2 linked regions of the Homo sapiens genome follow. The protein of the gene in region 2 purifies or fractionates together with the protein of the main gene of each other region. This does not show direct contact. Each region holds a gene or a part of one and is shown on either strand. Other genes may lie near its edges.

The links.
Region 1: the proteins of CST8 (region 2) and RANBP10 purify together in Homo sapiens (affinity purification with mass spectrometry; one large-scale study listed by BioGRID and IntAct). This does not show direct contact.

What each region holds. Positions count from the first base shown.
Region 1 is NC_000016.10:67,726,561-67,730,060, forward strand, and holds part of RANBP10 (ran-binding protein 10), read right to left. Parts: intron 3,487-3,500; coding exon 3,378-3,486; intron 3,269-3,377; coding exon 3,120-3,268; intron 2,925-3,119; coding exon 2,720-2,924; intron 2,042-2,719; coding exon of another isoform or gene 1,952-2,041; coding exon 1,830-1,951; intron 1,337-1,829; coding exon 1,191-1,336; intron 879-1,190; coding exon 767-878; intron 1-766. UniProt on the Homo sapiens protein: May act as an adapter protein to couple membrane receptors to intracellular signaling pathways.
Region 2 is NC_000020.11:23,489,807-23,493,916, forward strand, and holds the start of CST8 (cystatin-8 precursor), read left to right. Parts: upstream 1-1,310; 5' UTR 1,311-1,536; exon of another isoform or gene 1,537-1,603; intron 1,604-1,718; 5' UTR 1,719-1,861; coding exon 1,862-2,092; intron 2,093-3,151; coding exon 3,152-3,265; intron 3,266-4,110. UniProt on the Homo sapiens protein: Performs a specialized role during sperm development and maturation.

The DNA.
Region 1 (3,500 bases), on a different chromosome or scaffold from region 2:
GTGGAGGAAAGACAAGGCCTGGTCACTGGCCTGCCCAGGGCTTGGGCCCAGGTCAAAGTTCCCTTGGGGGTGGAAGGAGGGGGCAGTGGACAGATTCTCTTGGAACAGAGTGTTCAGTACCTCTGTGTAAGTGTGTCCCAGCCACCAGGCCATGGCCCTGAAGTCATGCCAGGAACCTGAGGACCTTAGCCCCATGTAGAGCGCTGGGCTGGCCTGGGCCTACTGCCATGGCCTAGGACCCATCATGAACTCAGCTGGGCAGACAGAGGTCAAGGTTTAGGTTCAACCATGGGAGCCCAGGAGTCCTATGAGTCACCAGAGAGGGCCTGTACAGAGCTTGCTGCCCCAGTGTGGATAAACATCAGCTCTTTCTGGGGCCAATTGGGGTGGGGGTTGGGAACCACCCAGGTAGCTATGGGCTAGCTTCTGTTTTTGTTAGATCCACTCACCTAGGCCAGGCATGGTGGCTCACACCTGTAATCCCAGCACTTTGGGAGGCTAAGGCGGGCAGATCACCTGAGGCCAGGAGTTCGAGACCAACCTGGCCAACATGGCAAAACCCGTCTCTACTAAAAATACAACAACTAGCCAGGCGTGGTGGCACGCACCTTAGTCCCAGCTACTCAGGAGGCTGAGGCACGAAAATTGCTTAAACCCAGGAGGCAGAGGTGGAGATTGCTGTGAGCCAAGATTGTGCCACTGCACTCCAGCTTGGGCTACAGAGCAGACTCTGTCTCTAATAATAATAATAAATAGATTCACTCACCTAAAATGGCGCTGTTGAGGGCAGCACACACAGGTTCCCTCTGGATGGGGTCAAGCTGCTGGCCAACTGGGCAGCTCCAGGGGTCTGAGTATGCCAGCAGGCTGAAGGCATCCTACAGGACAGGGCATTCTTGAGAGGACTGTGGCACACACCATAGCTCACCCTGCTACCCGTGGCTCCAGAGGGAGACAGGGCCCTGCATGATGCCCAGCCTGGAATGTGGGGTGTAGGGTCGGGCAGGGCTGTACTCTCCCCAGAGCCTAGGTGTGGAGGGCACATGTCCAGTGGGCCCAGATGCCCCACTTCCCTCTGCAGACCTGGCTGGAGCCCACTCTTTCCTGCTGCCCCCTGGACTCTCCCAGAGCCACCCTGCCCCCAACACCAAATGGGGCCTGCTCTGCATGAGGCCCGGCTCATCCTGTACCTGCAGCATCTCTGTGTGGGCCAAATTCTTGCCGTACTCCCGGCCCAACTGCTCACTCAATGCCTGCAACTCGCGGCCAAACAGAATGATCCTTTCTGTGGCAGCCTGGTTGCCCCCGCAGAGCTGCCGCCGAGGATGCCTGTCATCTGCATCCAGAACCCAGTGGAGAACGTGTTAGGAGGGGTGAAGAGGGAAGGGCAGGACTAGGGTGGGGCAGGAAGGACCCCGGGTGGGCTGCAGCTTCTGCCAGAGGCAGGCAGGGCTGGGAGGAACAGGTGAGGCAGCTACAGTCAAGGCGTTCTTCTCTTCATTCACCTGGCGCACAGTCTAGGATTTAGGGAGGACTTGGAAGTTGTCCCTCTTCCCAGCCTGCACAGACGCAGGGTGCTCATTAGGGTGCCCATGCTCTCGAACACCCTCCAGCCTCAAACATAGGTGGTCTTGGCACAGGCCAGGGCCTTCGTACATTTGGAGCCACCTCAAGGACCCATTCACAATCGGCTAAGGAGGCTGTGGACCAGGTCTGGCTGAAGCTTCTCAAGATGCCAAAGCCTGCCTACCCCAGCCCCTCCCAGGGGAAGAGGGCACCCAGACTGCACACTGCCCTCAAAGAATAGCACACCGGGCCGTGGCTCTCACCCATGCTGGACTCATCCGTCTGCAGGTCCTCATGCTTGTAGGCACCATTAACAATGCGTGTGGACATGCTTCCTAGCACACCGTTGGGGTAGTGCTCTGCCTCCATCTCCATCTCACTGTCGCTGTGGGGAGGGGTTGAGGTGGGAGTTGGCCCAGGGGGTGTGGTTGGAGCAGCCTGGTTGGGCCTCCTTTCAAGCTGTAGCCATGGGTTGCTGTGGGTGAACCGAGGACCCCCAGGAACATGAAAGGACAGCTCAGGCTTCCAAGTCTTCAGCACTTGGCCCCTACTGTGACACCAGCTATCCTCAGAGGCCTGTCACCTGATTCCCACCCTTGCCCCAGTGCTGCCTCTGTGATTCTCCCCTCCCTGGCCCTCCTCTGAGTTCACACACCTCTTCTACATATCCCCCAACCTAATGACTGGGCCCCATGGCCCCCATGGGCAGCTCTGTGGCCTTGGTTGGAAGCCAAACTCAGGTCAGCCTTGAGGTGTACCTGGGGATGCTGAGAGCCACCTAGAGCTCTAGCCTGCGGCTTAGCTTCCCCTGCCTGCCCAACCTGGCTGTCTACAAGCCAGAGCCAGGGAAAGCTCCCTCATGATGGACCCTGAGGGTTCTCACAGGCCCGGCCTCTTTGGAGGAGACCACATCCTCAGCCTGGCATCATTGGAGCCTCTGGAGAAAGCCAAGGCCAAAGAAAGTGCAGCTAAATCGTGGGGAGGGCCAGAAGCCAGAGCTGATGTCTGGCCCGGTGGGCCAAAAATTAGGACTCCAGGCACAGACCTGAGATGGAGGCTGGGGGTGAAGGGCAGGGCGCTCAAAGGACAGACTGCAATGGGCCCAGCTGGCATAAGGCAGAAGGCAGAGGAGGAAGCAGAGCAAGGCAGGCACCTGGTCTCCTGGTTACTGGTACTGCTGTGGTGCTGGGACTTGGTGGAGTCTGTTGAGTTGGACTCGGAGTAATTGACGGAGGATGGGGAAGAGGACGAGGAGGAGGAGGAGGACGAGGATGAGGAGCTGGGTGCAGGGTATTTACTGTGGTTCTGTTTGCTCTTGGTGGACGCGACGCCATTGCTACAGCTGGGACTGTCTGCTCCTAGAAGCCAGGGTGACAGTCAGAAGAGGAGGGGCAGCTTCCCATGAAATGAAGCCCCAAGAACAACCACAGTGGTCCCATTTCCCTTCTCCCAAATCCAGCAGTGAGCCCTGAGCCCAGCCCAGGAAAGGGTATGTGGAGTGGCCTCTCTCCTCCACACCAGTTCTTCCCAGAGCCCTCTGGAGAGTGGCTGACCTGTGTTGTGCATGTGGGAACTACTGGGGCCATGTCGGGGACTGAGGCTGGGGGAGCCAGGGTAGCTGTCCTGGGACTTGGGGCTTCGGGAGCTCAAACTTCGGACCTCACTGTCCGTCCCATTCACCATCTCCACAAACTGCCGGCACCTGTGGAGGGAGCGGAGCAATAATGCTCTGGTTGTGGTCCAGGTTGACGTTCCCACCACCAGCTGAGAGGGGCTGGACTCTGGGGGAGCTGGGGGTGCCCAAGACTTACTTGAGCATGAAGAGGAGGTTGGGGTTGTGCTCCAGCAGCCCTGGGTAGAAGCGCTGGGTGGTCTCGATGGCCTCGCCCACACGGCCCTCCAGCACCAGCTTCTGGATCTCTGCAGGGTGCAAG
Region 2 (4,110 bases):
GGCATCAGAGTGGGCCACGTGACCCTTACCCTGGCAGGACAGGGCAGGGGGTTACTGTTGGCCCAAGCCAAGGGAGTTCAGAGGCCAGGCATTCAGGAAGCCAGAGTCATTGGCACAGGTGGGCAGAAGATGCCAGAGGGGCCCTGTATTAGTCAGGGTTCTTTTAAAGGGACAGAACTAATAGGATATATATGGTTGTGTATATATATAAAGTTAATACTTAATAAACTCCCCTTTATATATATATAAAATATATATATAAATTATATATATATTAATTATATATATAATATATATATAAATTATATATATATTAATTATATATATAATATATATATAAATTATATATATATTAATTATATATAATATATATATAAATTATATATATATTAATTATATATAATATATATATAAATTATATATATATTAATTATATATATAATATATATATAAATTATATATATATTAATTATATATATATAAAATATATATAATTTATATATATAAAATATATATAATTTATATATATAAATTATATATAAAATATATATAATTTATATATATAAATTATATATAAAATATATATAATTTATATATAAAAATTATATATAAATTATATATATAAAATATATATATAAATTGTATATATATAAAATATACATATAAATTATATATATATAAAATATACATAAATTATATATATAAATAATATGTATATAAAAGGGAGTTTATTAAGTATTAACTTACATGATCACAAGGGCCCACAACAGGCTGTCTGCCAAACTGAGGAGCAAGGGGAGCCAGTCTGAGAGTCCCAAAACTGAAGAACTTGGAGTCTGATGTTCGAGGGCAGGAGGCATCTAGCATGGGAGACAGATGTAGACTAGGAGGCTAGGACCATCTCTCCTTTTCACGTTTTTCTGCCTGCTTTATATTCGCTGGCAGCTGATTAGATTGTGCCCACCAGATTAAAGGTGGATCTGCCTTCCCCAGCCCACTGACTCAAATGTTAATCTCTTTTGGAAACACCCTCACAGACACACCCAGGATCAATACTTGGTGTCCTTCGATCAAATCAAGTTGACACTCAGTATTAACCATTGCAGGCCCCTGACTCTGAGGGCACAGCAGGAGGCATTTGCTTGCTCTCTGTGCCCCTGTGAGAGCTGTTTAGACCAAAGGCCGGAGGCTGGCAAGTGGGAGATGTCCTCACTGGGACAAGACACAGGTGCTGAATTACATCACAAAGCGTAACCTCCCTGCAGGGCGTGGACTCAGAGGGGCAAGAGAGACCGCAGACCAGGACCCACAGAGACCCTTGACTGGGCCACAGGCATGAACTAAGAGTGCTGAAGACCTAGGAGAACCACTGGTCAGGTCAGCTCCCAGCTCCACAGGGAGTAAGAAGGAGCTGCAGGCACAGCAGGCTGAAAGTCCACCAAGGGCTGAGGCCACAAGGCCTCTGGGGCAGCCACAGTTTTCATGATCACATCATACAGGACTGAGAAGCAGATAACAAGAGTGACGCTCACAGGGGTAGGCATAGACACACTGGGGCCGAAGGGGAGAGGAACTCTCCCTAGACACACAGATTGCTCTCAGGGTAAGGAGGGGAGGCTGGTAGAGAGACTCCTTAACTGGCATTCCTGGGTGGGTTTCCATGGAGAAAGAGAGGACAAACCCCAAAGAGTGACCCTAATGGCCTGTCTTGAATCCAGCTGGGCTGACGCTAACAGGAGGCAGTGTGTGGCTCGAAGATTCTTGAACCCACAGCAGCAGCTGCGGCCACCCCATCCTGCCCACAGCTCCAGCCCTGAGACGACGAGGAGGAGAGTCGACTTTGCCTCTTGCCCAAGGGACCATGCCCAGGTGCCGGTGGCTCTCCCTGATCCTCCTCACCATTCCCCTGGCCCTGGTGGCCAGGAAAGACCCAAAAAAGAATGAGACAGGGGTGCTGAGGAAATTAAAACCCGTCAATGCCTCAAATGCCAACGTGAAGCAGTGTCTGTGGTTTGCCATGCAAGAATACAACAAAGAGAGCGAGGACAAGTATGTCTTCCTGGTGGTCAAGACACTGCAAGCCCAGCTTCAGGTAAAGGTGTCTTTCCATATAGGTGGACATTTGCATATGGTGGCACAGTTGAAGCCAGACTGAAAGAGTGGGCATATAAGAAAAATATCACTATGCAAAAATCCTAAATATGTGAATGCTTAAGAGCCTAGACACTTCCACAGCATCAATAAGGCAGTGAACACACAGAGCACTTTCTACAAACGCTTGCGCTTTTGTTCTAAGTCCTTCGCATAGATTAACTCATTTAAACCCCAAACTGCAAATCAAATGTTCATGTATTTGCTAAGGTTGGGAGACAGATAGAATGCTAGCCATGAGAAAAGATCTGATAAAGGTGAGTCCAGGTGAACCTGGACCCAACTAGCAGACACTCCTTCATCTCCTGCTGTAATCCTTTAATGCCAGATGAAAACAGATTTAAATGGACATCACAAGTAGCCTTGATTGCATTCAGTCACTAATGAGTTCAACAAATACTAATGTCCTGCTATAAACCTACTGCTGTTCTACTCACTAAAGACTCAGCAGAGAACAAGACAGGCAAACTCATGCCTGCATGGGTCCTCATGGACTGTGTGCTGAGCTGGTGGGAGGGGCTTTGGGTGGGGAAACCCCAGAGGATGGGAGGTTTCACAGGAATCTGAGGGACTGGGGCCTAATGTGGCTGAGGGGGCTGTCCCCTGGTCAGGCCTGTGTGAACCTGAGCATCTCAGGCCCAGGAGAGCTGATGGTTCTGAAGAGCCCACCTTTCACCTCTCAGTCCTCACTGAGCATGCAGCATGCCCTGGGCTTGGGGACAGGAAATGGAATGAGAAGGCCTTGCTTTCAAGGAGGTGACAAACTGGAGAGGAGTCTTTACTCAAGTGTCCAGCTCCAGGAGCCTATGGAGTCCTGACTGATCTTGTTGTACACAGGGCTCCAGGCAGTGGGCATCTTAGCCTTCCGCTAAAGCTCTGTCTGGGGGTGAGGGAGGAAGGAAAGAGGAAAGGACGAGAGTAAGAGTAATTTTTTTTTTTTGTCAAAACTTTAAAAAAGTACAACTCTTTTGAATAAAATTGCATAATTGCTAACCAACAGGTCACAAATCTTCTGGAATACCTTATTGATGTAGAAATTGCCCGCAGCGATTGCAGAAAGCCTTTAAGCACTAATGAAATCTGCGCCATTCAAGAAAACTCCAAGCTGAAAAGGGTAGGTGATGAACCACTCATCTGTGACGGCCTAGGCAGCTCTGAACCCAAGAGAGAAAGCTGAGGCACGCAGACCTTCTCTTTGAGGTCTGGGTGGCTCCCAGTGTTTAGCCCCAGATAGCCAACCCTGTGGCCTTTATAGCAGAAGATCCAGGGCCACGGAACGTGGTGGAACCCTCTGAGCTTCTTTCTCATCCTTCATCCTGCAGAAAGGATGTTGTCAAGACCACTCTTATCTCAAGGGCTCCATTGACTTCTGGCCTTTTGATGCAGGCACACTGGACAACACATAATCACCAAAAGCCTGTCCTCTTGGGTCCAGACAAGCCACCCACTATTGCTGGGCCCATGGTCACTCATCCCCATACAGACACAAAAGGAACTTCATTCATTCACTCATCCACTCATAGAAAATTACTGAGCACCAGGTGCTACGTGCTTTGCACCAGGTCTATTCTGGGTGCTGGAGATTAAGCAATGACTAAGCCAGAGGGTGGCCCCACCCTCCTGGGTTTACAGTTGATTTTTGCTGGGGTCAGTCCAGGTTTCCAGGAAGGTTGGGGCAAACCCACAGACTCCCAACAAAAGGAGGACTTGGCCCAGGGGCTTTTGGCTTCAAGCCTGTATTTTTTATCTCAGAGCAGCTCATAGGCCAGTACTTGGTCCCAGACAGATGAAGGCCTGAGCATTCTGCAGGTTTGCCCAACAGGTGCATCACTGTCCCTGTCTTTACATTGGTGGTTCTCCAATGTGAGCAGGCATCACAATCACTTGGAGGTATTGACAAACCCTGATGACCGGGTTCCACCGGCAGAGTTTCCAATTCAGGAAATGGGATCTAAGAAT